Linked DNA regions of Homo sapiens: region 2 is linked to region 1. The links come from fine-mapping of genetic effects on gene expression. A gene starts in region 1. The other region holds a variant in brackets. All regions are shown on one strand. Distances are between the middles of the regions.

Evidence for each region.
Region 2: its variant is fine-mapped to the expression of GPR180 in whole blood (INTERVAL, PIP above 0.99). The same link has a PIP of 0.9 or more in fibroblasts and lymphoblastoid cells.

The regions. Positions count from the first base shown.
Region 1 is chr13:94,597,451-94,613,139 of GRCh38, reverse strand. GPR180 (G protein-coupled receptor 180) reads right to left here and starts at 11,283. Exons shown (of 9, transcript NM_180989.6): 1 at 11,068-11,283; 2 at 7,591-7,749; 3 at 750-950. The coding sequence starts at 11,212. It also overlaps the pseudogene NDUFA3P5. RefSeq lists enhancers at 8,396-8,895, 11,251-11,545 and a silencer at 10,873-11,472.
Region 2 is chr13:94,562,187-94,577,875 of GRCh38, reverse strand. It overlaps TGDS (TDP-glucose 4,6-dehydratase), which reads left to right. Exons shown (of 12, transcript NM_014305.4): 10 at 447-505; 11 at 1,465-1,562; 12 at 3,024-3,822. The coding sequence ends at 3,094. Among named protein-coding and RNA genes, the nearest start is that of TRF-GAA1-5, 20 kb to the right of the region's middle. The variant A/GA (reference allele first, on the strand shown) is at 7,994.

The DNA of each region.
Region 1 (15,689 bases):
GACAGATGGCCTACAAATCCTTACTCCAATATGTTAATTTACAAATCAGTTATACTTCATAGCATGTTCATCATGATCATAAGAAGTCATTCATTTCTGCTGGGGGTGGAATCTTACCTCAGTAGGACAGAACATAGTTACCTAACATTTTGATGAAATATTTCATATGAGTACATCTGATTCTGAGAAGTATTATGGACTCTGATCATCCCTAAATTGTTGTAAGCTTCAATGAAGGCAATCCCTAAATCTGTTCAAACAAGCTAGTACAGAGTTACCCATACAAAGTAGCTGAGTTTCTAATCTCATTTAATCATTAACAATTTAAATTGTTTAATTTGTTACCATTTTTCTGTTTATAAAAATAATGCAAGGTTATCATAAAAACAAAAATGTTTAGAATGTATAAACTATAAACTACACAAGTTGTTTCCTGTCTGGAGCCAAAACAAACAAGCAAACAAACAAAACTATACAATTCTACCAACCCAGAGTATCAAAATAATCTATTAATATTTTTGTGCTTCTTTCTGTTTTATTCTTTGCAGGTTTTAATACACTCAAGTAATACTCTGCTTTTAAAAATTAATATGATGGCTATCAAAATGCTATAAGAAGATTAATTTAACCATTTCTCTAGTTTTGGAAACACAGGTTGCTTTCATTTTTGATTTTAAAAATACAACATGAATATATTTGTACATAAATCTTTTCCTGAATTTAGGATATATTCAAATACATATTCTTACCAGATTCTCCAGCACTAAAATGATCAAATGGATTCCCTTCGGCATCTGGGTTTAGTAACACCATTTCAAATGGGATATCTTCCACCTGAGAATTCTCCTTGTCATCTTGGCATGTATACTTGTCTGCATAAAACACATGCCACGTTTGTGGAGACGGAATCTGGGACACTGTCAGATTATGTTCGGTCTGGTTCATGGTCACTTTAAAGAGAAAGAAAACACCTTTTGTAACAAAATTCTCAAATGTGTTTCACTGTTTTAGTCATATAATCAATTTGAGGTTAGGACAATCTTTTAATTTTTATTGTCTCAGAAATCCAAGACCTTGTGTAGTATTTGGAATAAGTCTTGTAAACCAGATATTTATAGAATAAATCAGAATTTATCTGCAAAGGAGATAAAAATGATGTTTTTAACCAAGGAATCACTATAAAAGTATGACTATAAAACACCACAAGTAGAATGGCTTCACTGAAACTCTGAATTCTTTTTTTTTTTTTTCTTTTTGGTTTTCACATTCGTATTGGGAGCGATGGGAGGGGCCTCCTCTGTCAGTGGAGGTGCTCAGTTTCTTCAGCCACTCCAAGCTGGAGCTCTGGGGATCCTGGGGGTGGCCGGGCACATTGGTCATGTTCCCATCATTGCGGACGGGCAATGGGTAGTTGTAGGGCATGGTCTCGTAGATCATGATGAAGTACTTGGTGTAGGGGCTGAGTGGGGGCAGAATTACAGCTAGGCTACCAATGATGAAGGACACAACCAGCACTGGCTCCCTGGCCCAGGCATTCTTGAGGAAAGTGCCAAGTCTCGCCACCATCTTGGTCTCGGCGGCTGAAACTTTGAATTTTGATTTTCGATATTTTCACAGTTTCCGGGTTGGTTAATGACATTCAAAAAAATTATTGTGGTAAAATATACACAATGCTAAATGTATCATTTTAACCATTTTTAAGTGTACAGTCTATGGCATTAAGCACATCTACAATGCTGTGCAACAATCACAGTGACATTTTTGAAGATTACTCGAGTTAAATTTAAAATGGAGCATTCAACTTACAAAATCATTATATCTAAAAACTATGTATTTTCAAAAGATTTTCCAAAATCTTTTTCTGATTGGTTGTTCTTTAAAGGTGTACAAAAAGCAGAAAAAATAGAAATTACAGGAATGCAGAAGTTATTATACTGGATCAGGTCCACATGAAGTAGTATGATACAGTCAGGGGTGGGGGGTGTGTGGCATCATTCAGATGTATGTTTGAATCCTGGCTTCAATACTTACCTGTTGTGTGACCTTGGGTAAGTTACATAAGCAATGACACTCACTTTCTTCATCTGTAAAATGAAGATACTACCTACAGCAAAGGGCTGATATAAGCACTAAGTTATTTGAGTCACCTAGCATGGTAACTGTCACAGAGTAGTTGCTAAATGTCAATTCTGCTTTTCCTTTCTTTAAAACAAGGTAGTTATATTAGTAAGTGGTTCTCAATCCAGGGTAATCTCCTTTCCTCCAGGGCATCTGAAAATGTGAGGGGATAGTTTTTTGTCACAATAGCTGGTTAGATACTTGGAGGGGGGCTGTGTTGAACCTCATGCAAAGAATTATTCCCCCTAAAATGCCAACGGCACTCCCTTCTGAGAAACACAAAATGATGTCTAAGATTCCTTCTGGACCTAAAACTATTAGGTTGGTGCAAAAGTAATTGCGGTTTCTGAATCTGACCTGACCTAAGAGGCACTGACTAACACTAACACGAAGCTGCCTAGGAGAGGAGTGTCTCAAGTTCTGGGTGTAACAAAAAGAGTAGAGTTAGAAGAGCGAGTCTTGGCCTTGCGACTCAGCAAATAAATTTACAAACTCTCTAAATTTGTTTCTTCAATAGTCAAATAAAGATACCTGCCCTGCTAGTGCAGAGTTCTTGTGAGGGGCAAATGAAAAGTATATGGAAAGAGCATGATTCTACACAAAGTATTTTTAAAACAGTATTATGATGGACCCAATTCCCAACTCTAGATTGCACCCAAAACATGTCAATATTTAAGGACAAATTAGTCTTAATCTTTTTCTCAATTGTAGAAAAAAACATTTTTAATAAATAAAAGACATTTCTTGAGGTAACTAGAAATGTATGTATGGAATAGATTTCAGAGGACATTATAGAATTACTCATTTTCTTAGGTGTATGATAGTTAAACAGATGAATTTCTTTACTCTTAGAAGATGTATGCTTAGGTATGGTGGGGCAAACTGTGATACCTGCTGCTTATTTTCACATGGTTCAATTAAAACAAAAATCACATACATATAGACATAAAGCAAATTTAACAAAATATTAACAATTATTGAGTCTAAGCAGAGGATATATGGATGCTGGTTGTACTATAATTTCAACCTTTCTGTATGTTGGGAAATTTTCCTAGTGGAAAGTTGGAAAAATGTTATTTATAGGTTGTCTTTAGGAATGAGATACAGATGTAGTCAGGATTTGAATTTTGAGGACTTGGACTGTACAACTGGGAATTTCGTTCATTGGTGGTTAAATTGAACAAGAGGATCTGATTACCACCACCATGGCATTGCTTTTTGGCTACTATAAGTTAGCTGACATTTAAACTACCTTTAAAAAAAAAAAAACACACATACAGTTTCTGGAAAAATGTAGCAAAGACTCTAGTTTCTGTTAAATATTGGAAGACTTTTAGTAAGAATTTAATATATGATCAATAAATGATTCACAAATAAGACTGTTTAAATGTGCAATTTGCAATTATATAATCCGGACCTCATTATATAAAGGCTCTGCTGTGTTGCCATTTTTATCATTTGCCCTTTTTCTCTTAGATAAAATATAAAAAAAACCCACACTTTTACCAATATATTTTTGATGTTTCATTTTAAATTATGTGGATTTACTTCAAACAGAAATAAAAGTATGCTTCATAAAGTGATACCGGCCTTTAGTTTTTGTCTTGCTGTCTTTTCGGCAAGGCTGGGAAACAAGCCTCTTGACAAAACTGTGTGTTCATTGTTTCTGAGACAAAAGACTACAACACAGCATGCATATTCTATGCTGGTGTAATTAGTACCTCAAATATTAACAAAACTTGAACTGCTGAGAATGGTGTTGAATAGCTAATTATCCAATCATATTATAAAAGGATTTGAATACTGTTAACCAAAACACACAATAAAATACTAACACCTTTAAATGATTTATAAAATATACCAAACTACAAAAGGAATCATATGCATAATATGTAAAAAGACAACACTGAAATGTTTTATATACAATATTACATTTAGCTCTTGTAATCTGATAGAAAATTCCTCCGAATCTCCTCGTTAAGTTTTAGATAGAAATACATAAACTCATCATTTTCAGTGCTTTCAAATGTCTTGTTTGCTTGCTTTAAAAATCTACAAAATAGTTTTTAGTATTTTTTAAATCAGATTTTTATGACAGAACAAAGAGATGACTGAAAAATAATTTTTCAAACATTAATTTGGGAGAGTCAAGCAACATTCAACACTAAGATTTTTCTAATCTGCTAGTCTTTTCATAGTACACAGCAGCAGCAAGGTTTTACGTAGGAGCTGGGCAGAGTTACTGAGTTCATTACCAAATAGGTGAAAGGCTGTTAACTCTTAAGTCTCATTAATAGCTAAGAAAAGCACTTGCTATAAGGAACTATTCTTAAATATGTGTTACTATTACATCATGAATTTAAGGATATGCTTTTTGTTTAAATGTACCTAAGCTCCTAAATAACATACCATAAATATGACAATATATAAAAGTTAGAGACTTAAGATTTGGATTTTGTTATTGGAAAAAAAAATTGGTGAAGTACATATATGTAGAAATCAGTATTAAATTTATTTTAAGCCCCAAAATTTGACAAAACAACCTTCATTCCTCTAAAATTCCTGTTACCTGTTATCTTCCATTCCACAATTTCAAAATATACCTCTGCACTTAACAGAACAGGGAAAAGAAAGAGAAACTAGAAAAAGAAACAACAGCAGAAGGTTTTGTTAAGTTGTAGTCCTATACATAAGTAACTCCATCCTTAAGAGTTATAACGAGAATGGCAGCATTTTGGAACTATCATGAACCTTAGGGACACCTAGTCCAACTTGCTTGTTGTACAGATAAGTAAAATGAGGTTCAAAGATAACGAGTTCTTGTTATAAATCACTAGCAGTGATACTCAGTTTTATGGTCTTCCCATTGCACCACACTGTCTCCCTGTATACAGAAGTTCTGGGAATACAGGAATATGACTCATACGAAAATGAGGTTTTTAAGTGTATAAAGTATATAAATACTGACTATGTGATACAAGAGAACAAATCAATATTCCTATAGCTCAAAGCTTTAAACTGCCTAGTAAGTTTTTGTTGGAGATAGAAAAAGTCTTTGAGATGCCAAACACAAAAAGCTAACAACCAGCCAAACAACAAGCCCTTAAGCATGAAGGTCTACGACTATTCATTCTACAAATACTTAGTAAAAACTTAACTAAGCACCGGGGTATCATCAATTCTCATTCTCATAGTGCCATATAATTAGCATTCATAGTACTTATCAAAATTGCAATTTTACATTTATTCACATTCATCTGATTCATTCTGGTCACCTCCACCAGCCTTAAGGACATTTTGGTCACTGATCTATCAACAGTACCTAGCAGTACATGAAACAGTGGAAGCGCTCAGTGAATGAACACACCAGAAGAGCCCTACTGCTCTCATTGACTGATTTTATAACAAATAAATAAAATGTAAAGTGGTAACTATAGTAAGTGCTATGCAGGAAAGCAAGAGGCTATAAAAACTTAGGTGTTAACTTAATCGACGGAGGAGCCAGAGGGGAGGCTGAAGAGGAAAAAGCCTATGCAAAGGCTCAGAGTAGCACTGAAATAAAATGCAGTGAGTGGGGCAATGCCCTGAGATGAAACGGAGAGGTAAGCAGCAGCCAGTCTACAATGGCTTTGCTGGTCAGGTTAAGGAGGCCCGGTCAGGTTAAGGGAAACCATTTATTTTAAGGGTGTGGTAAAGAAGTGAATGTAACATGACCAAATCTGCTATTTAGAAAGATCTAGTTACAGAAGGGGGACCAGCATGGCTATAAAATAACCACGTAGGAGACTGTCGAAATAGCAAAGGCAAGATGAATTCAAGAGATATTTAAAAGTAAAACCTCAAGACTTAACTGATGTATGAGGGGGTAGAAAGGTCAAAGAGGGGAGTATTAGAAGACACCTTGGTTTCTCAACTGTTTACTGGATGGATGGTGGTGCCAATTCTTAAAACAGGGAACATCAGAAGAGGACCAGGTCTGGATGGGGAAGATGGTGAGTTCAGTTTAGACGCCAGAGGAATTGGGAACTGAAGGACATGACCTTTTACACATATGTGCAACACTTAGATGAGCAAACTGGCAGAGAAAGGAAGAGACAACCAATCAAGAGAATCTGCATGTATTTCCCAGATAAGTTTTGAATTCAGGGTCAAAGTAAATAATTGTATGTAATTGTCATTCATCTTTAGGATACTATCTTCTCACAATATCATCTCACAAATCTACATTAAAGATCCCCACAATGGGTGGCAAGGACTGGGGACCTCTGCTCTTTTCACTGATCTAGCTAGTTGCCTTATGAGGGAATCAGACAGCTGATAAGATAAAAGCCAGATGTTTAGAAATGAATGCTTCACTAGAATAGGCTAAGAGAAGAGACTACCATGTTCCATATATGGATGAGTCCCTGAATAATAAGAGGAAAAAGGGAAGAATAATTCCCATTTTTCCTCATGGATGCTTCAAATTTCTAATGTCTTCTACACCTAATTAACTTGCGAGGTGCAAAATGGAAACAATGGCACATGTTCTTCATTTCCGTATTTAAAAAAATTTTCACTCACTCTGGATGGCTAGCAACCTAATGCACAGGACAATGTTGATGAGAATGAATGGGATCACGGATTTAAGCCACTAGATTAGGATTTAAAAAGTACAGCCTCTCTAGAGGCAAATCCAGAAGTATACAAATGATGTGGTGGTGGTACATCTCAAAGTGACTTTTTTGAGACAAAGTCTCACTCTGTCGCCCAGGCTGGAGTACAGTGGTATGATCTTGGCTCACTGCAACCTCTGCCTCCCAGGTTCAAGCAATTCTCATGCCTCAGCCTGCCAAGTAGCTGGGATTACAGGCGCATGCCATCACACCTGTCTAATTTTTTTCTGTATTTTTAGTAGAGACGGGGTTTCACCATGTTGGCCAGGCTGGTCTCAAACTCCCAACCTCAGGTGATCCACCCACCTTGGCCTCCCCAAGTGCTGAGATTACAGGCCTGAGCCACTGCACCTGGCTGTCAAAGTGACATATTTTATACCATATAACTAAGTCTCATGTTCAAATGACATGTTGTGAAACAGCATCACTCAAGCTAAATTACCCAATTAACTAAGATAATACATTGGCATTTAGCTCAGTGCTGGCAGATAATTAGCATTCAACAAATGTTACCATTCATTCCATGCTGCCACTGGGTCAAAATATAGTTTCCATATTGGCATAAATTATGCAAACTGTAAAGAGTCAATGAAAGAAAGGACTCCTATATAAATTATCTGGATTTTTTTTTCAAAAACGATGAATGATAAAAAGGGAAAGGCACTGTTAAAACTCAGCTTAAAATGTACTAGACAAAGTGTCATCACAGTGGGATTATGCTGTCAGGAAACATAACATATGTACATATGGTACTATATTTCAACATTAGGAGGAAAAAAACTATATCTAATGATCAAAGAAAAAAGGATATACTCACTTGTCAACTGAGCTTTGGATAATTTTTCACTACAGCTATAACCATGACTGCTTTGCTGTAGCTTTAGCCATTCCTGGGCTTGGAACAGGTAGAGTTTAGCTTCTTTTCCAACAGCTACTGCTATGTTGTTGATTCTGACACACAGAAGAGCATGGTCACCTTGACATTAAAACAAAAATCATCAACTAGTTTGGTCTTACATGAAACTGAGACATGAGGACAACTCAACACCTCTACTTACCAAAATGGAAATTTAAAAAGCACAATTCTTCTTAAATCTCGCTTAACTAGGTAAATCACATCATAATGAACACAACATTCAGAAGCAAGAGATTATTCAAATGAACGTGTGGTATTTCCTTGAAATTCAGCTGATAACTGATATTTCACTCAATAAACCGCAATATCTGGGGTATTTGAACAATTCACTGTATTAAAATTTTTGCCTCACTTTACAACCACTTCACATTTTATATTTTATTCATAATCTATAGAAATGTCCCACCAAAGTTTCTGTTTTTTAATATGACATAGGTGTTAATATTTAATTATACTCTTAATATAAAAAATAAACATAGCTAATAGCAGGAAAGTTTAAATGTATGTGTTCTGGGGTAGACATATTATACCTAAAACAAAATTTGGTATCTACGACTTTTACAAAAGAACTTTCAGGGGCTGGGCACAGTGGCCACACCCGTAATCCCAGCACTTTAGAAGGCCAAGGTGGGTGGATTCCCAGCCCAAGAGTTTGAGACCAGCCTGGGAAACAAAGTGAGATCCTGTTGCTATTTAAAAAAAAAAAAAATTAGCTGGGCTTGGTGGCTGAGCCTGTAGTCTCAGCTATTCAGAAGGCTGAGATGGGAGGATGGCTTTAGCCTAGGAGTCTGAGGCTGCAGTCAGCTTTGATTACACCACTGCACTCCAGTCTGGGTGACAGAGCAAAACTCTTTTTTTTTTGAGACAGAGTGTTACTCTGTCACTCAGGCTGGAGTGCAGTGGCGCAATCTCGGCTCACTGCAACCTCCACCTCCCAGGTTCAAGCGATTCTCCTGATTCTCCTGCCTCAGCTTCCTGAGTAGGAGTAGCTGGGATTACAGGCATGCGCCTCCACACCCAGCATCACCACATCCAGCTAATTTTTGTATTTTTAGTAGAGACAGCGTTTCACCATGTTGGCCAGGTTGGTCTTTTTTTTTTTTTTTAATTTATTTTTGAGACATATTCTCGCCCTATTGCCCAGGCTGGAGTGCAATGGCACGATCTCAGCTAACTGCAACCTCCGCCTCCCCGGTTCAAGCGATTCTCCTGCCTCACCCTCCCAAAATAGCTGGGATTACAGGCACCTGCCATCATGCCTGGCTAATTTTTATATTTTTATAGAGACGGGGTTTCACCATGATGGCTAGGCTGGTCTTTAACTCCTGACCTCAGGTGATCCACCCACCTCAGCCTCCCAAAGTGCTGGGATTACAGGTGTGAGCCACCACGCCCAGCCACCAGGTTGGTATTGAACTCCTGACCTCAAGTGATCTGCCCACCTCTGCCTCCCAAAGTGGTGGGATTACAGGCAGGAGCCACCCAACGAGTCTGGCTTCCTTTTTAAAAAAAAAGAACTTTCAGAATAATATATGTTGTAAGATGAATACAGAATGAACCTGGTTGCACACACCAACTACATTTAAGGCCCAGAACAGAAATGGCAGTAAGTTATTGCCTCTAGGGAAAGGGATTCTGGGTGAAAGAGCTAAGACAGGAGACTGTTTTTCATTTTAAGATCTTCTATTCTCCTGGAAATTTTTTTTCTATGCTTTTATTACTATAATTACCACTTTGATTAAACATTTTAAATATATTTAAATATACAGTATATATATCAAAGAATGTGCAAGTCTCTTACATAAATTGATTACATATTTTGAAGTCTTACAAGTGACTCTGAGGCCCAATTGACACTGTAAATTGCATTCCGAGTTACAGTTCATTGTTTCAGTATAGTTTTTGTATTATTATTTTACTGAATTGGGATTCATGAAAATTGGTAATAACTATATGTGATTTTACACATATGAAACAGAATGAACGCACTTGAAACACCTTATCCCCAATCTGTCTTGAGAAATCTGAATTTAGTACATGTTTCTCCTCCACGTTTACCAGATGATCATCAGGAACTATGAGGTCGTCCAAGTCTCTCTGCTGGTCCTAAGTAATAACCCACGTCTTCTATACATCCCACATTTTCCAACACTGTCCACATTGTGCCATTTAAGACAGTGGCTGTCAATACTCAAAGTATGGTTACAGTCCGTTGAATGAGAAACTCAAAATGTTACAAAAAATAATAAAATTGTTTCTAGTGTTTCTTCTTCATTCACCCAAAATATATTCCACATTGGATTTTGAAAAACTGGGTTACTGAAACTCCTTTTCTTAGCTATCTTAAAAACTTCAAAAAAAAAAAAAATCAGGATCCCTTCCCTTTATTCTGTCAATTCTGTAATTTCCCAATACTTTAAATTCCTTTTCTCACCAAAGTAGTTCCGTTTCTATTATCTTCTCCTAACAATATTTTCTAGGCCAATATTCTGATGTTCATCGTTGCATCTTTTAATGCTAAAGACTGTACAAATCAAAGTTCCTAATGTCATCAAGGCAAATAATTATTTGAAATACAGCACTAGTCAAATTAAGAGTACCAAGAAAAACACTTAAATTGTGAGAGTGCAAATGAGACCAAAATTAGAATGAATTGCAAATGCATTTATTGAAGGAATAATTACTGATTTTTGAGGAAGACCAAAAGGTCTGAAATCAAACGCAACTCTGATTTCAGAAGAGCCACACAGAACACAAATTAGGGAGCTTCCAAGATGCTACTTAAATGCATTTTCATCAGCTTAATTCTAGGCCTTACTGCCCATAGTAAATCTACTGCCCTAGTAGCCAAGTAACCAAACTGCTCAATATAACAACTACATTATCAAGTGTTTTACTTGGTTTCCAAAACCACTCTGTTGCAAGTAGGTCTCAGGAAATTGGTCTTTAAAAAAAAAAAAAAAAAAAAGGAAATTTAAGTTTCTAGGGTTAAATTCTCCCGTCACAGTGTGGCCGAGACAGGAAGGAGCAAATATGCTTCTTTGCGGGAAGGATCTGGAAAGATGCGGCCGACCAGTCTTTTGCACATTGGCTTCCAAGGGGAGGGTTGGGGAAATGGAAACCAGCTTTCAGGTGCGGAACACGATCACTAGTGGCGAGAGGCCGCTGCCTGGGGCTGGAAAGCCGCACCAGCGGGGTTGGCAAGGAACGCATCCCACCATTCGCGGCAGCTGCTGCAACGCTGGAGGTCCAGGTGAGGCTGGGGAAGTCGCCGGCCTCGCCCAACGTGGCAGGGAGGGGCCGGGAGGAGCGGCCGGCGGACTCAGCCGGCGGGATGGGCCAGCGCGCCTTCATCCCCCTCCCCGCCCCCAGACCTACCATGGAACTCGAAGTGGCCGATGCGCTGGCCCTGGGCGTCCTGGGCCGCGGTGCTGCTGAAGCTGCCCCGCAGGGTCTTACCCTGGCTGCCCTGCGGCCACCAGCAGCACGTGAGGGCCACAGCCAGCAGCCGCAGCCCCCCCATGCCCGTCTCCAGGTCTGCACCGACGCCTCGGCTCCCAGCCGCCGGCGGCTGCCCGCCCCACGTCGGCAGCTGGGGGAGGCGGGGTGGGCGCCGGAGACCTGCTGCTCTGGAGCCTGAGAGCCAATGAGGCGGGCTCCTCTGCCATAAGCCGAAGACATTCACCAGTCAGAGGCCGAAATGGGCGGGACGCGCAGATCCTAGCGTCCCATCAGTCCCCGGCTTTTGACTAGTTCCCGCCTTTTTCTTTAATGAGGAATCAGGAGGATGTTGCTTCAGGTTACGGAAAACTCATCTCCCTCCTCATTGCCTAGCACGTCTTGCTACTGAGCATGCGCGGGCGCGCTGGCACGAGTCCGCGGGGCCTTCGAAGGGCTTGTGGGATTCGGAAAAAACTTAAGAAATGCAGGACAGGACTGTTTCTGGCCGAGAGAGTTAAACTCCCGCAAAGAAAAAACTGTGTTCTTATGCAGATTTTCTTCCTTGGCGCCTGTATAACCTACAGGACGTGTCCGATTTAATGTCTCAAAGACACTTAGCTCCGCATGACCACAATTTAACGCATGCCTTCTCTTGGCATCTCCAGCCGATTTTTCCCTCCTAGGTTCTCTGGCTTCTCGAATTACATTACCCCCACCCCCACCCCCGCCCGCAGACCAGACCGCTGGGAATTGTAGGCCCCCCCCCCCCCGCAATTCAATCAATTCAATAACAAGTGTGGATTAGCCCTTCTTCTGGTGAGGGTGGGAAGCAGCGGCCACAGTCCTACTCAGTTCATCACTTTGTTGGCCTATGGCAAAGACCGTCTCTACAGTCTTCATTCTAATTGGCTACAATCCATCTCTACCCTACAGCCACAGAAAGCTGTAGGAAACAATTTGCTGCACTTGCCTTGAAAGGTTCTCAATTGCCTTTAGCACACAACCCAAACTCTAGAATATGGCTCTTCAACTCTCAAATGTCTGTTTTTTCTCATCTCCATCCTTACCGCCGTTGGTTTCCTGAACACTCCCAAGTTCTCCCTTCTAGGCCTATATCACTCCCTGATCCCTCTGGCTAGAATACTTCTGCTTATTCCAACACTGGACCTCCTCACCTTCCTTTTCCTCCTTTACTCCTCCTTCCCAAGGCACTTTAAGAAGCCTTTCTCAAACCCCTAAGTCTGTAGTAGATGCCCCTGGAACCAGAATCCCTTACTTCCCTACCAGAGCACTCACGCACTGTACTGTAAGTATCCATTCATGTGTCTGAAATCTCCGCCTCTATTGTCAGCTCCAGCTGGTCAGTGACTACACTTTTTTTTTTTTTGAGACGGAGTTTCACTCTTGTTGCTCAGACTGGAGTGCAATGGCGCGATCTCGGCTCACCTCAACCTCTGCCTCCCGGATTCAAGCGATTATCCCACCTCAGCCTCCCGAGAAGCTGGGACTGCAGGCATGCGCCACCATGCCCGACTAATTTTTTATTTTTAGTAGAGATGGGATTTCTCCATGTTGATCAGACTGGTCCCAAACTCCCGACCTCAGGTGATCTGCCCGCCTTGGCCTCCCAAAGTGCTGGGATTACAGGCGTAAGCCACCTTGCTGGCTATACCTGTCTTAATGAAAGTGAGGCAGGAGAATAGGGCCTGGGGTGAGGGAACCTAAGGCGTTTTTACACCGACTTTCTAGAACTATTAAAGGAAAACCCTAACTTTCCACCCTAAGTAACAAAAGGACCAGAGGCTATGCCCTTTGCAAATCCCCACCTTTTCTGTGAGGCAGATAAGAAATTGGCTGTCCCTACCCAGTCAGACTGATTGCCAGCTGAGTCTTCGTTTGCATAGAAGTGCAACTTTGTAACTCTGTAACATTGCTTTTTGCAACCAATCAGATGTTTGCACAGGAGTGTGACCTTTGTAACTCCACTTCAGCCTCTGATTCATTGCTTTCCCCAAGAATCAGACCTATTGGGGGCCACCACTTCATTTATATGAGGTGAGCTCCAAGTGGCCAATGGGAAACTTCTAGGGAGTATTTGGACCCAAGATGATTATGTGTCCAGGCCCTTCTGCGCTGTGTAGTTGCATTTTCTTTTTTTGAGACAGAGTATCACTCTGTCACTCAGGCTGGAGTGCAGTGGCACAATCTCGGCTCACTGCAACCTCCGCCTCCCAGGTTCAAGTGATTCTCCTGCCTCAGCTTCCAGCTGGAATTACAGGTGCACACCACCACACCTGGCTAATTTTGGATTTTTAGCAGAGACGGGGTTTCACTATGTCGACCAGGCTGGTCTCGAACTCCTGACCTCAAGAGATCCACCCACCTTGGCCTCCCAAAGTGCTGGGATTACAGGTGTGAGCCATCACGCCCGGCCATGTACTTTCATTTTCAATAAATCCCTGCTTTCGTTCTTTCGTTGCTTCATTCTTTTGTTGCTTCATTCTTGCCTTGCTTTGCTGTGCATTTTGTCCAATTCTTTGTTCAAAATGCCAAGAAACTGGACAACTTGCAGTCAAGACCCTCCACTGGTAACAAAAGTAGGAGCTCAAAATTATTTCATGAATAAATGTATATAAATTATTTTCATTTAACAACAAGCTTCTATAACATATAAGGAAGTTCTCATAACAGACCTCATCATTTAGAAAAAAAAAATATTGAGGAACCACCTCCTACCATATACACAGCATTTTCAGTATTTCTGGCTGACCAGGAATATGCTGGAAGTATTAATATTTTCGGATTTTTTAAAAAAAAACTGCGGCCGGGCGCGGTGGCTCACGCCTGTAATCCCAGCACTTTGGGAGGCCAAGGCGGGTGGATCATGAGGTCAGGAGATCGAGACCATCCTGGCTAACAAGGTGAAACCCCGTCTCTACTAAAAATACAAAAAATTAGCCGGGCGCGGTGGCGGGCGCCTGTAGTCCCAGCTACTGGGGAGGCTGAGGCAGGAGAATGGCGTGAACCCGGGAAGCGGAGCTTGCAGTGAGCCGAGATTGCGCCACTGCAGTCCGCAGTCCGGCCTGGGCGACAGAGCGAGACTCCGTCTCAAAAAAAAAAAAAAAAAAAAAAAAAAAAACTGCAAGGATTCTTTATTATGCAAGTAATCCATGTGTCTCAGAAAAAAATTCACAGTCAAAAGTATATAAAGTGGGCTGGGCGCAGTGGCTCACGTCTGTAATCCCAGCACTTTGGGAAGTGAGGTGGGTGGATCACCTGAGGTCAGGAGTTCAAGACCAGCCTGGCCAACATGGTGAAAACTCATCTCTACTAAAAATACAAAAACTAGCCAGGTGTGGTAGCATGCGCCTGTAATCCCAGCTACTTGGAGGCTGAGATGGGAGAATCGCTTGAACCTGGGAAGCAGAGGTTGCAGTGAGTCAAGATTGTGGCACTGCACTCCAGGCTGGGCAACAGAGCGAGACTGTCTCAAAAAAACAAAAGTATATAAAGTAAAAATTAAACTCCCCATTTCCTCCTTTCCCTGCCCATATCTCATCCCTAAAGGTAACTTATTTTAAGAGTTTAGGGTCAATCCTTTCAAGTAAGCCACAAATACCACAAATATATGTGGTATTACAAATACCACAAATATATGTGGTATTTGTAAACCAAGGACAGGAATAAAACTGGTCCTGAAGAGAAATCATAACACAGGCCTTGAATGTTAGGCCTTTCCTATCTTTTCTTTCTTCTCAATCAACTTTGTTTTTCTCACTGTGAAGACAGGCTTTCTGGCTCCTCACTTTGAAAGAACATGGCCACCAAAAAGTTCCAGCTTTGTAGGACCTCAGAGTTCAAGTAGAGTAACCAGACTATACTAGCACCTTAGTCGAATTCTAAATCCCAAGAAGAGGCTTCAGTTGGCCTAGAGTCAGCCAGATTTCATTCTGTGGCCTGCCTGGGTCAACTTGGGGAGATCATAAAGGACAGTGGGGGGAGGAGTCTGGTCAGAAAAAAACTGTACGTATCGACTGCAATATATTTTGGTCTTCATTCCATGTTGGTATATTCTTTTTAAAGGCTATATAGCAGTTTACTGCATTTTAAAAGTTAGAAGACATTATACACATTTAGATTATTTCCAGTGTTTCATTATTGCAAGCAATACAGCAATGAACAATTATCTATATTATACATCATGGAATTTGAGGGGGTCATAGAATATGAACATTTGAAATTTTCATATGTTTTACCACTTTGCCTTGTAAAAAGGTTGTGGTATGATTCTTCCACATATACACCTGTACTGGATGTTTCCATTCGTTTTCAGCTTTGCCAAACATTATGGTGGGGAAAAAAAGATATTTATCTATTCGACAATATTTAATGGTCATTTATTCTGTGCCAAGTCTCTAAGGACATGCGATTACAGCAGAAAACAAAACAAAGCCCCTGACCTCATGGAACACTAAACAGAGGGCAGTGACATCAATGTAAATGTTGAGTGCTAGGAAGAAAAATAAAGAAGGATAAGATGATTCGGCAGGGTTGGGCAG
Region 2 (15,689 bases), 35 kb after region 1:
GTACCATATGTGTCTTAAATTAAGTTGGATCACCTATTTAGTAACAGCTTTTCAGGAAAAAATAATTCACTAAATGTGCATTCCCTAATTATATTTCTGCATAAGTCATTTGCAGAAATATAAAATTGTCTTAAAACAAGTAACAGTGATATATAAAATAATTACATTAGTAGTTATGAATGTCCATGTATATTAGGGGACATCAATTTTAAATCTTAGTTTAATAGAAAGAGGAACTGAATAATAACCAAAATCCAATGTGTATATCTGAGCTTCAGATGGAATTTAGGTTATAAAGTATAGAAAGTGTTACTAAAATGATGTTCATTTTAGCTGTCTTCCCTGCTATGAGGCAGTTGTTTTCTTTTTAATCAGCCATTAAATACTATTGTTATTCTCTGATCTCATTTTATAATTTGACTCAAAAGCTTTTTCCATTTTGACAGATCAAAGAGACCAATTCAGAGTCTGAAATGGAAAATTGGGTTGATTATGTTAATGATAGGTGAGTAACAAGTTAAAACCTTGGGGAAAGGTTGTGAAATCTTAGGTACTTATAAAATTATAAAATATGTGGACTTGACCAATAACTAGTTTATCTGTTTTGAATTTTCTGGTAAAACATTTTTTTCATAATCGTAAGTACCATACAAATTAAGTATAGCATTATTACTTACTAGCTATGTGACTTAAAAAACTATTGACCCTTTCTAAGTCTGAAGTTTCAAACCTCCAGTGTGAAATAGGGATAATAACATCTTTTTTTTTTTTTTTGGAGACAGAATCTCGCTCTGTTGCCAGGCTGGAGTGCAGTGGCGCAATCTCGGCTCACTGCAATCTCTGCCTTCCCAGGTTCAAGCAGTTCTCCTGCCTCAGCCTCCCGAGTAGCTGGGACTACAGGCACACGCCACTACACCCAGCTAATTTTCGTATTTTTAGTAGAGACGGGTTTGCACCATGTTGGCCAGGATTGTCTCGATCTCTTAACCTCGTGATCCGCCCTCCTTGGCCTCTGAAAGTGCTGGGATTACAGGCATGAGCCACCTTGCCTGGCCAATAATAACATCTTTCTTATAAAAGTATTCTAACACTTATTTATAATGTGTATGAAATACCTGACCCACAGCCTGGCATATGAGTTCTAATAAGTTTTTGTGTATTTGTTTATTTAGTCATTGAACATTTGTTGAGTTTTTTGGATGTGTCAGGTACTTCACTTATATCTAGATCGTGGCTGAAACAAGAAGACAAGACACAGAGAGGGTTAGGCACCTGGCATTATGGGTGACTTTTTTTTTTTAAATATATACTTGATTTTACAGACTTTCTGCAGAAAACCTATTGGGAATTTTTGTAAAGAGAAAAGTTGGGTTGTGGTAAAAATGCATAAACACATATCTCCTAATATCTAAATTTGTAAATATATATCTACAATATTATTTTAAATCTGTTTTGTTTTCCAAGACCCACCAATGACATGAGATACCCAATGAAGTCAGAAAAAATACATGGCTTAGGATGGAGACCTAAAGTGCCTTGGAAAGAAGGAATAAAGAAAACAAGTATGTTTTGAATTAATCATTTTGGGGGCAAGTCAGAAAAATTTAAAGGAAAAATAACTTATTTCCAGAACATTATACAAACCAGTGGAATATTGTGTTGAATCATTCGTACTTTTCAAATTGCCACATTTCATATATTTCTAGTAGCAGTCCTGTGTTTCCTAAGCATCTTGAATTTTATAAACCAACCTCTGATCAATCTTCCCATATCTTGTTAGCATTAATCAAATACCTGTATTATTTATTCTGAGGTACATATTTTTTCACTTTCTTCACACTCCTAAAAGGTATGTATTTTTATAATCACTGGTGTCTTATAATTATTATTGTAGCTTTTTTCTTTTTTACATGTATGTAAAATAATGATCCATCAGTGGCATCTTAGAGTTGGTGAAATATAGATGCAGTCTTTTTTGTGTCTTGAGGCTTTTTATATTGAAACCAACAGAGGAAATAAATTTAGTATGTGCAGAAAAATCTATTAAAATAAGTGCATATAAAGTCTGTGTATACATGTTAAAGCTGTATTTAGAAATGTATTCATGAGAAAAGCTCTACCCAGATGTAGAAAAAAAAGTTTTGATTCAGAGCTTGAAATACAAATACTTAAGTCAAATATTAAGAAACAAAAAATAATTTAAAACTATCAGATTTCTTTAAACTAAAAAAGCTTTTACTGATAGTATAGCAATATAAAATAATTTCACATATTAATAGAAGGAAGGTGCTGGGCATAGTGGCTCACATCTGTAATCCCAGCACTTTGGAGACCAAAGTGGGAGGATCACTTGAGGTCAGGAGTTCAGGACCAGCCTGGGAAATATAGCGAGACCCTGTCTCTACAAAAAGTAAAAAAATCAGCGGGGCATGGTGGCACATGCCTGTAGTCCTAGCTATTTAGGAGGGTGAGGTAGGAGGATCTCTTGAGCCCAGGAGTTTGGGCCTATAGTGAACTACGATTGCACCACTACACTCTAGTCTGGGTGACAGCGAGACCCCATCTCTTTAAAAAAAAAAAAAAAAAAAAAGCAAGGAAGTTCACATCAACTCATTGTGCCTCTCATGCAGTGTTACCATATTTATACGACTAAACACTGTATTATACTTTTTTATATAAAATAACCTTAAAACCAGGGCAGATGACTTATTTCCCACACCCCAAATTCCTTAAAATCAGAATCTTAAATATTTATACCAAGTTCAGTATTGAATGACTTTAGAAGTTAAGAAGAAAAAAATAGTTGATTTTTAATCATAAATTTTTTAGGTGATTTAAATGTCTTCTGATTGACTTCATTGTTAAGTTCAAAATCAAATTGTTTACATCATTAGTCAGCCCTTGTCTGCTGCTTAGCTGATGGGCAAGACTTAGCTAGCAGGAACTCAGTAAAGGTTGGTTAACTGATGTTTAGTTTTTCTTTCTTTTCTTTTTTTTTTTTGTCTTTTGTTTTTTCCTATTAGTTGAATGGTACAGAGAGAATTTTCACAACTGGAAGAATGTGGAAAAGGCATTAGAACCCTTTCCGGTATAATCACCATTTATATAGTCGAGACAGTTGTCAAAGAAGAAAGTTATCCTACCTCGCCAAGTGGTATGAAATTAAGTGACCAAATGAAGTGCACTCTTTTCTTTTGGAATTAGATTCATGACTTTCTGTATAAAATTCAAATGCAGAATGCCTCAATCTTTGGGAGAGTTTCAGTACTGGCATAGAATTTAAATGTCAAAATTCTTTCTGAAACCCTTTCTCCTAGAAACTAGGAAATAATAGGTGTAGAAGACTCTCCCTAAGGGTAGCCAGGAAGAAGTCTCCTGATTCGGACAACCATGAGGGGTAGTGGTGCTAGGGAGAAGGCAACCTTCACTGGTTTTGAACTCAGTGCCTAAGAAAGTCTCTGAAATGTTCGTTTTTAGGCAATATAGGATGTCTTAGGCCCTAATTCACCATTTCTTTTTTAAGATCTGATATGCTATCATTGCCTTAATAATGGAACAAAATAGAAGCATATCTAACACTTTTTAAATTGATAATTTTGTAAAATTGATTACGTTGAATGCTTTTTAAGAGAAGTGTGTAAAGTTTTTATATTTTCACAATTAACGTATGTAAAACCTTGTATCAGAAATTTATCATGTTTACTGTTTAAAATGATTGTATTTATAAAATTGTCAATATCTTAATGTATTTAATGTAGAATATTGCTTTTTAAAATAATGTTTTTATTTTGCTGTAGAAAAATAAAAAAAAATTTGATTATATATTTTTAATCCTTCTTTGCCCTAAAGACTTTAAGAAGACTTGAAAAAGTAACTGATTGGCTATTGGGTTGAGAAAGGGAAAAGAAACTGGGTGGCCCTCTATTAAGAATGCAGATTTTGGTATGGAGGCATCATAATTCCTCATTAGAAAGTCTTATACTTTAAAAATACCCTTAAATACCAGCCTCCCACTGTGCTTAGGGATCCCTGAGTCCATACCTCTTCTATTCAATTTCTCCAATTTCCCCTTTCTGGAGAGAAAGAGAGGGAAGACAGGTGTGTCAGTTGAGTCTTACAGGAAGCAGATGCAGAGAGAAAGTAATGACTATAACGATAAAAGAAGGAGGAAGCAAAATTGGGCAGGCTGTGCGGGCAGAAAGGCAAACCCAACCCATGTGGAGAAAATGTCTATTGTGAGAATCAGCTACTAGCCCTTTCACAGTGGAAAGGGCCCAATGGAGTTCATGTCCCACCAGGTAGCTGGTGGGTTTCCTTGAAGAATAGTGCCATATTGGGGGCTCAGTATTTGTCTCTATTGCCAGCAGGTTGGATATTCACAGGTGACAATAGCTACATTGGCTGTGGTAAGTGAGAATTCATGCTGTGGGTCCCAAGAGTAGGGACCATCTGTACAGTGAGGCCTATTCCATTCAGGTGCCCATCATGGTAGTTCTGGGGTGGCTGATGATGAAAGCTGGCTAAAGTTAACTGACCAAGTCATTTTATCTACTGGGTGGTTCAGTGCCTCTTGCTATGGTGGTTGCTTTCTAGTGAGTGTTAACATGGAATACACAGATCTTCACACTCCCCACCCTCTCCCATAGATAGGCCTATCCACGCTTCTCCAACCTTTACTTCCTTGTTTCCTGCTCCTCTAGACTTTTTCCTTCTAAGCCCCAAAGTAGCTAGCCAGGCTACTGGTCATGACTAAATGTATATTCTCACCACAGGTCACTACTATACATAGTGCATGAGCAGGGATACTACTCGAAGCTTTTTTCTTGGAAAGGTTTTCTCTTTCCACATTCTTTTTAAGGCCACCCCTGCATGGTTTTCAGGCAACCACCCTCCATTTTTGGCTTGCACCCACAGAACAGGCCAATCCATCTATAAACTAAGATCAACTTTTTTTCTCCTTTCAGTTGGTTGTATGGGACCCTCTATATGGCCACAGGTATAAAGAACTAAGGTGGTGACATGGGAGTCTGGCCTACCTGCTCTTACAACTTACCTGTGCTCTCCCATTCTGCTCATGCTCGATCCCAGATGTGCCATTTCCATCTTCCAGTGGACTGCTGCTGGCTCCACCTGACTCTGAGTGGGTGGGCACATTACTCTGCTAGAACTGCCATAACAGAATATCAGAGACTGGGTAGCTTCTACAACATAAATTAATTTTCTCACAGATCTGGAAGCTAGAAGTCCAAGGTCAGGATCAAGGTGTTGGCAGGGATGGTTTCTTCCGAGGCCTCTCTTGGCTTGCAGGTGGCCATCATCTGTCCTTATGTGATCTTTACTCTGTGTCTAAATTTTCTCTTCTTATAAAGACACCAGTCATACTGGATTAGAGTGTATTTTAAAGATCTCATTTTAATATACCTCTTTAAAAACTTTGTTTCTAAGTATAGTCACTTTCTGAGGTACCAGGGGTTAGTACTTCAACATAAGAATTTGGGGGAGACACATTTCAGCCCTTAACAGTGGGTCCAAGTGAACTTAGTACATATGGGCAGTTCTAGATGCATGGTCATTTGGTGTCTTGTCGTCAAGTATTCTGGGTCTACCATGGCACAGTAATTTATTTTCCAAAGGCATGATTCTCCACTGAGCCTGAAATGGTCTTTCCCAGGTGTAACCATGGGACCTGCATAGTTATTCTCCACTGGGGCTCACCATAAAACCCACACTACATCTGTCTCTACCACTGACACCACCAACACCATAGGGTTTACCACATCATATAGCCCAAGTGGCAGGAATGCTTACACCCCAGCTTGGACCTGCTGCAGACCTCTTTCCCGCCCCAGACCCCTCAAAGCTGGCAGCCTTTTCTGTCGCTCAGTATATAAGCTGGAGCAGTATCCCTAAGTGTGGAATGTGTTCCCTCCAGAACCCAAAGCCACACTCTGTGTTTCCTTCTCTGAGGAAGGGGATATAAGATAAAGCAGTTTGACTTTTACTTGGAGGGCATGTCCTGGCACACCTTGATTGTTTGACTCCTAAAAACTTTACTGAAATCACAAGTCCTTGAATCTTCATCAGATTTTATCTCCCACCTTCTGGGGTGAATGTGAATTACCAAAGCCATCAGGGTGCTAGCCACCTTTGCTAATTCTGCCTGATCAGCATGACACCATCAATGTGATAGATCACTGTGACATTCTACAGGATGTTCAGGACACCCAAGTCTCTTAGGAGAGCAGAACTTACATAGCCCTAAGGTGAAACTGCAAATGCTCCTGGTTTCTGATCATCATGGTTGAGATGGAAAAGAACACATACAGCAAATCAGTGGCTGGATACTATGTTCCAGGGTCCTTCTAATCCACTTCAGCAAAGAAGATGCCACATAAGCACAGCAGCTGCCATCAGAACCTGGTATATAAGTTTGGATATTTGTCCCCGTGCAAATCTCATGTTGCATTGTAATCCCTAGTGCTGCAGGTAGGGCCTGGTGGGGGGTGTTTGGGTCATGGAGGAGAATCCCTCATGCTTGACATTGTCTTCAAGATAGTAAGTCCTTGTGAGATCTGGTTGTTTAAAAGTGTGAGACACCTACCCTCCATCCCCGCTACTGCCTCTCTCTCTTGCTCCTGCTTTCACTGTGTAATGTGCCTGCTCCCAATTTGCCTTCCGGCATGGGTAAAAGCTCCCTGAGGCCTCCCCAGAAGCCAAGGGATGTCAGCGCCATGATTGTACAGCCTGCAGAACCGTGAGCCAATTAAACCTCTTTTCTTATAAATTACCCAGTCGCAGGTATTTCTTTACAGCAGAGCTGCTCCTTAATTGAGCTGGCCTTGACTGCAGTCATTTCACCAGGATCTACCCAGTTCTAGCAGTGGCCAGACTGGTGAATTAAACGGAGCTTTGGTGGGGGCCTCTCTGTAACCTTGAGATCCTCAAGGGTGGCATCATCTTCACCTCCTCCAAGGTGTGATTTTGTGTTTTAAATTGAGACGAGGGTCTCACTATGTTGCCCAGGCTGGTCTCGAACTCCTGCACCCAAGTGATCCTCCTGCCTTGGTTCTAAAGTATTGGGTCATGGCGGCGAATCCCTCTTGGCTTCTTGACACTGTCTTCGCGATAGTAAGTTCTCATGCGATCACTGCTCCCAGCTGTGATTTTGTTTTTGATTTACTATCTCAGCCAGGCCAGAGGCCCAGCTGAGGTAGGTTTGTTAAGTTTGCTTCAGCCAAGGTTAGGGTGCTGGTTGGGAAAATCTAGGACCCTGACACAAAGATGAGACTGTCTGAGTGGATTCCTTTAAAGATGTCTGCAGCTTTTAAACTATTAAATACTGAGTTTGGTCTTGGGCTTCTTCTATTCTCCTACCTCATGATAAGGCCCTCACACTTAGTTGTCACTTATTTCTTGTTCTTAGCTTTTCATTACCCTTCTGGAGGACATCAGTACAACTTATTAAAGACCAACAATTCCACTGCCCTTGTAAGACGTGTTCTCCTGAGCTTTTCAAGTGCCTGAATTATTGCAGTAAGCAGGGCAGGGTGGTCCCCTTCCAAAGAACATTCCCCCCAAGTCACCAACATGAAAGTTTTAGCAACTGCATCACTACCTTATGCTAGGGACTGTGTATGCCCCCTGCCTCACCCAGGATGGTATTCTTATGACCAGACAGGCAGAAAGTGATCCAGTCTAAACCCATCTTATCAACTGTTTTGTTAGACCACTCTTAGAAGTGACTGTGTCATTTGGGTCCTCTGGGAAGTAGTGGCTGAGGCCAAATTAGAGGTGCTAGCAGTTTATTAATAGGATAGGGAGTTAATGCTTGTGAAAGATACAAAAGGGAGGATGCATAATTGGGCAGAAGAAATCTTCAGGCTGCAGCGTAGATCAGACATCTGTGAAAAGGAAGGGGTGAGGAAGAGGGTTGGCAGAGTGGGCTTCAGAATCTCATCCAGCTCAACAGGGATCTGCAGAGCAAAATCTCCTG[A/GA]AAAAAAAGCCCCACCTGGGCAGAAATGGCTGGGTTCCCTATTGTGCTCAGCCATTGGCCAGGGGCTACTTAGAAACGACCAGGTGGATCCCGAAGGCATTGCAAGTGGAAGCTGCTGGCTAACTGCACTCTTGCCAGCTGAATGGCAAGCTTTTTCTTAAAGGGAAATCCAAATGGTAGACCTTGATAATTGCCATTTGTAGGGGAGGAGGGGGTCTTGGAGTTTAATTGCTCTCTATACAGACTTTCAACCAAACCACTTGGTTTTGTTTGTTTGTTAGATAGAGTCTCACTCCATCACCCAGGCTGGAGTGCCGTGGTGCAATCTTGGCTCACTGCAACCTCAGCCTCCCAAGTAGCTGGGACTACAGGCACGTACCACCACGCCCAGCTAATGTTTTGTATTTTTAGTAGAGATGGGGGTTTCGCTGTGTTAGCCAGGATGCTCGCGATCTCTTGACCTCGTGATCCGCCCACCTCCCAAAGTGCTGGGATTACAGGCGTGAGCCATCGCGCCCAGCTGCGCCACTTGCTTTTTATCCAATGCCTTACCCTCGCCTACCTCCCTTACCTCCGCCTTCCACTGCCCCAGTTGCTTCCAGGTTCTGTGAGGTCAGCTTACCCAATCTGGAGGTTCCTAGAAGGCTCATTGGAGATGACATTTGAGCTGTGACTTAATGAATGGGAGTTAGTGAGGAAACAGGATGATTCCAGGCAGAGGGATCATCAGAGTGAAAGCACCAAGTTTTAAATAGTGCTGTGTGTTCAGGAAACAATACGCCATCAGTTTTACTCTAGCATAGTCATTCTCAAAACGTGTCTCCATTTCATTAAGGAAATCAAAACTATAATGAGATATCACCTGACACTCATCAGGATGGCTATTATTTTTTAAAACAACACCCTGTCAATGAGGATGTAGAGAAATTGGGACCGTGGTGCATTGCTGCCGGGAATGTGAAATGACGCAGCCTCTGGAAAACAATATGGTGGTTCCTCAGAAAGTTAAACATAGAGTTATAATATGATCCAGCAATTCCACTTCTAGGGGTATATCCAAAAGAATTGAAGGCAGAGGCTAATATACCTGCACACCAATGCTCATGGCAGTAGTATTCGCAATAGCCAGAAGGTGGAAACAACACAAATGTCCATCAACAGATAAATGGATAAAACAAAATGGCTTATGCAGTGGAATATTATTCAGCCTGAAAAAGGAGTGGAATTCTGACACATGCTGCAACATGGATAACCCTTGAAGACACAAAAGGACAAAAGTGGTATGGTTCCACTCAAATGAGGTTCCTGGAGTAGGCAAATTGACACAGTATCAGAGGTTTACCAGTGGCTTGAGGGAGGAGGGAGGGAGGAGGTATTGTTTAATGTGTACAGAGTTTCTGTTTAGATGATGAAAAAAGTCCTGAAACCAGATAATGGTGATGGCTGTACAACATTGAGTCTACCTAATGCCCCTGAATTGTACGCTTAAAAATGGTTGAACATGGCTTTTACATTATGTATATTTTGCCATAATAATGATTTTTTTAAATGTGGCCCTGGACAGACAGCATTCACATCACCTGGGACCTTGTTAGAAATACAAATTCCCAGACTTACAGAATCAGAAGCCCTGAGAGTGGGGCCCAGTAATTCAGAAGCCCCCTAATGTTTGAAAGCCACTGTTCCATAATGTGAGATGGGGAGGTGAGGCTGGAGAGGAATGTGGTAGCCAGGTCATGGAGGGCCTTGTCTGCCATGGTAAGATGCTTGGACTTTATCCTACCAGCCAAGAGCTAATTCTGGATTTTAAGGAAGAAATTGACATGGTTAGATTTACAGGATTTATCTTTTTCCTAGTTTCAAAAATAATATGCTTATTATAGAAAACTTGGAAAACTAATCAATAAAAGAAAATCACCCATAATCTAACACTGGAAGATAATTCCTGTTAATATTTTGATGTATGTAATTTAATTTTTTGTGCATATATACATACATTTTAAAAACCAAGTAGAGGATCATAATGGACATACTGTTGTGGAGCCTGGTTTTTTTCATGCAGCAGTATATCATGAATGTTTTTGCATATTATGAGATCTTTTGCCATTTTTATTGACTGCAGAATTATGTTTTTGATAGCTTTTTCTGGCAATAGCATGGAAGACGAATTTAAGGAAGACAAGAATGAGTTCCTGCAGGGATTGAAGTTATGAAGCTGTTGCAGTAAATCAGGCTGGCGATGATAAGGCCTAAAGCACAGCACCGCAAACAGGGAAGGGAAAGTCTGGGACAGACATGAGAACGTTTTAGATTTAAAAACTTACTGATTGATGATACATTGGAGGAGCTGTTTTTTGACATGAGTGGTATTTTAAGGTTTTCAGTGTTGAATTGGAAAGAGTGGAGAATGGTGGATTACAATTAGGAGATGTTGAGCTTGGAGAGATGTTGAGCTTTAAGGGTCTGTGGAACATGTTAAGTGGAGATACCTGGTGAACAGGCAAGTATGTGAATCTGAAGCTCAGATTGGTGGTCAGGGCTCAAGATCTAGACATACATATTTGGGAGTTAAATGACTGTTAACATCTGAAAGTAGATTAAATCCCCCCCCCCCCAAGGAAAGTATACAAAATGACAGTGTTGATGGTGGGTGGAATGATTTACAGACAAGCCATGAGAAACACTAATATGTAAGTTGCAGGCAAGCAGCCCAAGGAAATTAGGAAGGAATGGTTAAAAAACAAAATTATGGGCCAGGTGCGGTGGCTCATGCCTGTAATCCCAGCACTTTGGAAGGCTGAGGTGGGCAGATCACCTGAGGTCAGGGGTTTGAGACCGGCCTGACCAACATAGAGAGACCCTGTCTCTACTAAAAAAAATACAAAAATTAGCTGGGCGTGGTGGCACATGCCTGTAATCCCAGCTACTTGGGAGGCTGAGGCAGGAGAATTGCTTGAACCCAGGAGCGGGAGGTTGCAGTGAGCCGAGATCGTGCCATTGGACTCCAGCCTGAGCAACAAGAGCGAAACTCTGACTCAAAAAAAAAAAAAAATTACTCCCACTGCTTCACTTGACTAGCCTTAAAAATCAATCCATCAATCAATCAATTTTGAAATAAAAAAGAAGGAATGGGCGGGGAGCGATGGCTCACGCCTGTAATCCCAGCACTTTGGGAGGCCAAGGCGGGTGGATCATGAGGTCAGCAGTTTGAGACCAGCCTGGCCAACATGGTGAAACCCTGTCTCTGCTAAAAATACAAAAAAAATAGCTGGGTGTAGTGTTGGGCACCTGTAATCCCAGCTACTCAGGAGGCTGAGGCAGGAGAATTGTGTGAACCCGGGAGGCAGAGGTTGCAGTGAGCCAAGATTGCGCCATTGCACTCCAGCCTGGGCAACAAGGTGAGACTCTGCCTCAAAAAAAAAAAAAAAAAAAGGAATAGTCAGAGGAGTGGAAGAAAGGAAGAAATAACGCCACCAAAGCAAAAGGGAGAGACATTCAATAACCAGCAGATGGCCAGCTGAAGTTCAGTAAGGCAAAGACTAAGAAGTGTCCACTGGTTTTTGGCAATGTGCAGGCAAATTTTCTAGTGTGGGGAGAGGGAGAGAACCTCTGGATTATGAAGATTGAGTAGTAATTAGGAATCAAGGGATGGAAAAATGGAATTTAGCCTTTCAATGAGCTGAGAAGAGTCAAGATAGGGCCAGCCCTAAGGAAGGCACAGGCTTAAGGAAAGGTCTTCAGAAGCTGCTTTGTTTTGTTTTTAGCACAGAAAGGACTTCTGTATAATTATAAGCTGAAGAGATGAGCAATAAATGAAGAAAGATAAATGATATTCAGGAGTGCATAATGAATGGAGTACAGTGTCCATGGAGATGGGCTCCCTAGGGAAAGACTCACTTTGGGATAGGGTTGATCTCATCTTTCTGGATTAGTAATGACAGGAGCTGAGATGAGATTGGATACAGTGACTTTTGGGGAGGGACGAGAGGGAATTCACTGTGGCCTCAATTTTCTTCCTGAAAGTCGGGAAGGCAACAGGAGAGAAGTGAGTTTTGTAGTGTCTCAGAGGAAAATGAGAGCAGCAGCTCTACCACCGCCCAGTGAAGGTGCAGCCATGTTTGAAGGCCATGAATTTATACTGTTACAACTATTGAAAAAATGCTGCATTGACCATCTCAATATACACCTGCGTGTACACAGGAGCGTGTATTTCTGAAGGATTAATGCCTAGATTTGGTATATCTGGGTCCAAAAGCACATGCACTTAAAATTTGAAAGATAGAGATGAAATTCCTGCACTCTAGCAAGCCATGGGTATTAATAGACCTTTAATTTTTGCCAGTACGAAAGATGCAAAAATTGTTTTATTGCACTTCTAGAATCTTTAGCTAGCTTGAGCCTCTCTTTGACCTCACCTGCAGATGTTGAAGTTCTGCCATCTATATTACCATCACACTGTACTCATACAATTTGTTTATAGGTGTGTGTGTTCCACTAAACACGGAGCTCCTGGGGGTGTAATCACCTCCCTGGACACTCAGCATCTCTATTCATTTGCAGGTTTTTTAAAGAGCAGAGTCTTTGCCACTGTCTGTCTGTCTCTCAATTTCTCTCTCCCTCTCTCTCCCCCTTCCTCCTCACACACACATTTCCCCCTCCCTCCTCACCCCAGGCAGAATCTCTTGCATTTTTACGATTTGTAGTCAAACACCATTTGACTACATAAAGCTCACTTTCTTGCTCAAATCTCACACTTTAAGAAAGAGGTGAACCAGTTTTGCAAGTCTTATATCTGATTTCACTTATATTTTGTTGTTGTTTAGAAAGACTGATCTTTAATTCTCACTTTGGTGCTTCTTTATAGAAACTTCTAACCTTGAATGATTTTTCTAGGATCCGTCCTTAGCTTTAATAGTATTTTTAATACTGTTGTGTTTTATAGCTAAACCCACTATGTTTTAATTGGCATACTCTTAAAAATAGTGTTACCGGGTGATGGAAAATGTTATATTTTACCAATGTAACCATTCTATCCCAAATTTAGGAAGTCGAAGCCCCCTTGTGTTTTCTCTACTTAAGTCGATTTTGAAGAGCAAAAGAAGCAATTCTAGGTCTTCATCTTTTTCTCTTGGCTCCAAACGACAGGCATATCTCATTTTATTGTGCTTCACGTTATTGTGCTTCGCAGATAATTATATTTTGTATAAATTCAAGATTTGTGGCAACTCTGAGTCGAGCAAGTCTATCGGTGGCATTTTTCCAACTGCATGTGCTTACTTCTTATCTCTGTTACATTTTGGCAATTCTTATAACATTTCAAACTTTTTCATTATTATATCTGTTATGGTGGTCTGTGATCAGTGACCTTTGATGTTACTAGTATAATTGTTTGGGGGCACCGCATATCATGCCCATGTAAGATGGCCAACTTAATTGATAAATGTTGTATGTTATGTCTGCTCCACTGCTAGGCCTTTCTCCCATCTCTCTCCCTCTTTCGGGGCCTTTGTATCCCCTGAGACAATATTGAAATTAGTCCAGTTAATAACCGTACAATGAGCTGGGCACGGTGGCTCACACCTGTAATCCCAGCACTTTGGGAGGCCAAGGCAGATGGATCACCTGAGGTCAGGAGTTCGAGACCAGCCTGGCCAACATGGTGAAACCCCATCTCTACTCAAAATACAAAAATTAGCTGGGCATGGTGGCAGGTGCCTGTAATCCTAGCTACTTGGGAGGCTGAGGCAGGAGAATCGCTTGTACCCGGGAGACGGAGGTTGCAGTGAGCCGAGATCATGTCACTGCCCTCCAGCCTGGGTGACAAGAGCAAAAACTCCATCTCAAGAAAAAAAAAAAATTAGCCAGGAGTGATGGCGCGCCTGTAATTCCAGCTACTTGGGAGGCTGAGGCACAAGAGTTGCTTGAACCCAAGAGGCAGAGGTTGCAATGAGCCGAGATGGCGCCACTACACTTCAGCCTGGGCGACAGAGCAAGACTCTTTCTCTGAAAAACAAACAAACAAAAACTCTACAATGGCCTCTAAGTGTTCAAATAAAGAGTTACACATCTCTCACTTTAAATCAAAAGCTAGAAATGATTGAGCTTAGTGTGGAAGTCATTTTAAAAGTTGAGAAAGACCAAAAGCTAAGCCTCTTGTACCTGTTAGCCAAGTTGTAAATGCAAAGGAAAAGTTCTTGAAGGAAATTAACAGAGATGCTCTAGTGAATACATGAATGATAGGAAAGTGAAACAGCCCTATTGCTAATGTGAAGAAAATTTGAATTTTCTGGATAGAAGATCAAACCATCCATATTTCTTTTTTTTTCTTTTGTAGATGGAGTTTCGTTCTGTCACCCAGGCTGGAGTGCAGTGGCATGATCGCCTCCCAGATTCAAGCAATTCTCCTGCCTCAGCCTCCCCAGTAGCTGGGATTACAGGCATCTGCCACCACGCCCAGCTAATTTTTGTATTTTTGGTAAAGATGGGGTTTCACCAGGAGAGACCAGGAGTTAGGCTGGTCTCTAACCACTGACCTCAAGTGATCCATCTGCCTCAGCCTCCCAAAGTGCTGGAATTACAGGCGTGAGCCACCGCGCCTGCCCCACAACATTTCTTTAAGTCAAAGCCTGATCCAGAGCCAGGTCCAACTCTTCAATCCTGTGAAAGCTGAGAGAGGTGAGGAAGCTGCAGAAGAAAAGTTGGAAGCTAGCAGAGATTGGTTCATGAGACTCAAGGAAAGAAACTGTTTCTATAACGTAAGTGCATGGTGAGCAGCAAGGGCTGGTGGAGAAGTTGTGGCACATTATCCAGAAGATCTAGCTAAGGTCACTGATGAGAGTAGCTACACTAAACAAAAGATTTTCAATGTAGACCATACAGCCTTCTGTTAGAAGATGCCATCTAGGTTGGGTGCAGTGGCTCGCGCCTGTAATACCAGCACTTTGGGAGGCTAAGGTGGGTGGTTCAGCTGTCAGGAGTTTGAGACCAGCCTGGCCATCATAGTGAAACCCTGCCTCTACTAAAAATACAAAAAATTAGCTGGGCGTGGTGGCGGGCACCTGTAATCCCAGCTACTCGGGAGGCTGAGGCAGGAGAATCGCCTAAACCCAAGAGGCAGAGGTTGCAGTGAGCCGAGATCACGCCATTGCACTCCAGCCTCGGCAATAAGAGCGAAACTCCATCTCAAAGAAAAAAAAAAAAAAAAAAGAGGAAGATGTCATCTAGGACTTTCATAGTTAAGAGAAGAGAAGTCAATGTCTGACTTCAGAGTTTCAGAGGACTCTCTTAATGGGGTCTAATGCAGCTGGTGACTGTAAGTTGAAGCCAACACTCATTGACCATTCTGAAAATCCTAAGGCCCTTAAGAATTATGCTAAATCTACTCGGCCTGTGCTCTAGAAATTATACAACAAAGCCTAGATGACTGAAAGATTTCTTTCAAAATATTGTTGCTCATTGACAAGGCACCTAGTTACCCAAGAAGTCTGATATAGATGTACAAGGATATTAATGTTTTCATGCCTGGCAACACAACTTCCATTCTGTACCTCGTGGGTCAAGGAGTAATTTTGACATTCAAGCCTTATTATTTAAGAAGTAAATTTCGTAAGGAATAGCTGCCATAGATAGCGATTCCTCTGAAGGATCTGGGCAAAGTGAGTTGAAAACCTTCTGAAAAGAGTTCACCATTCTAAAT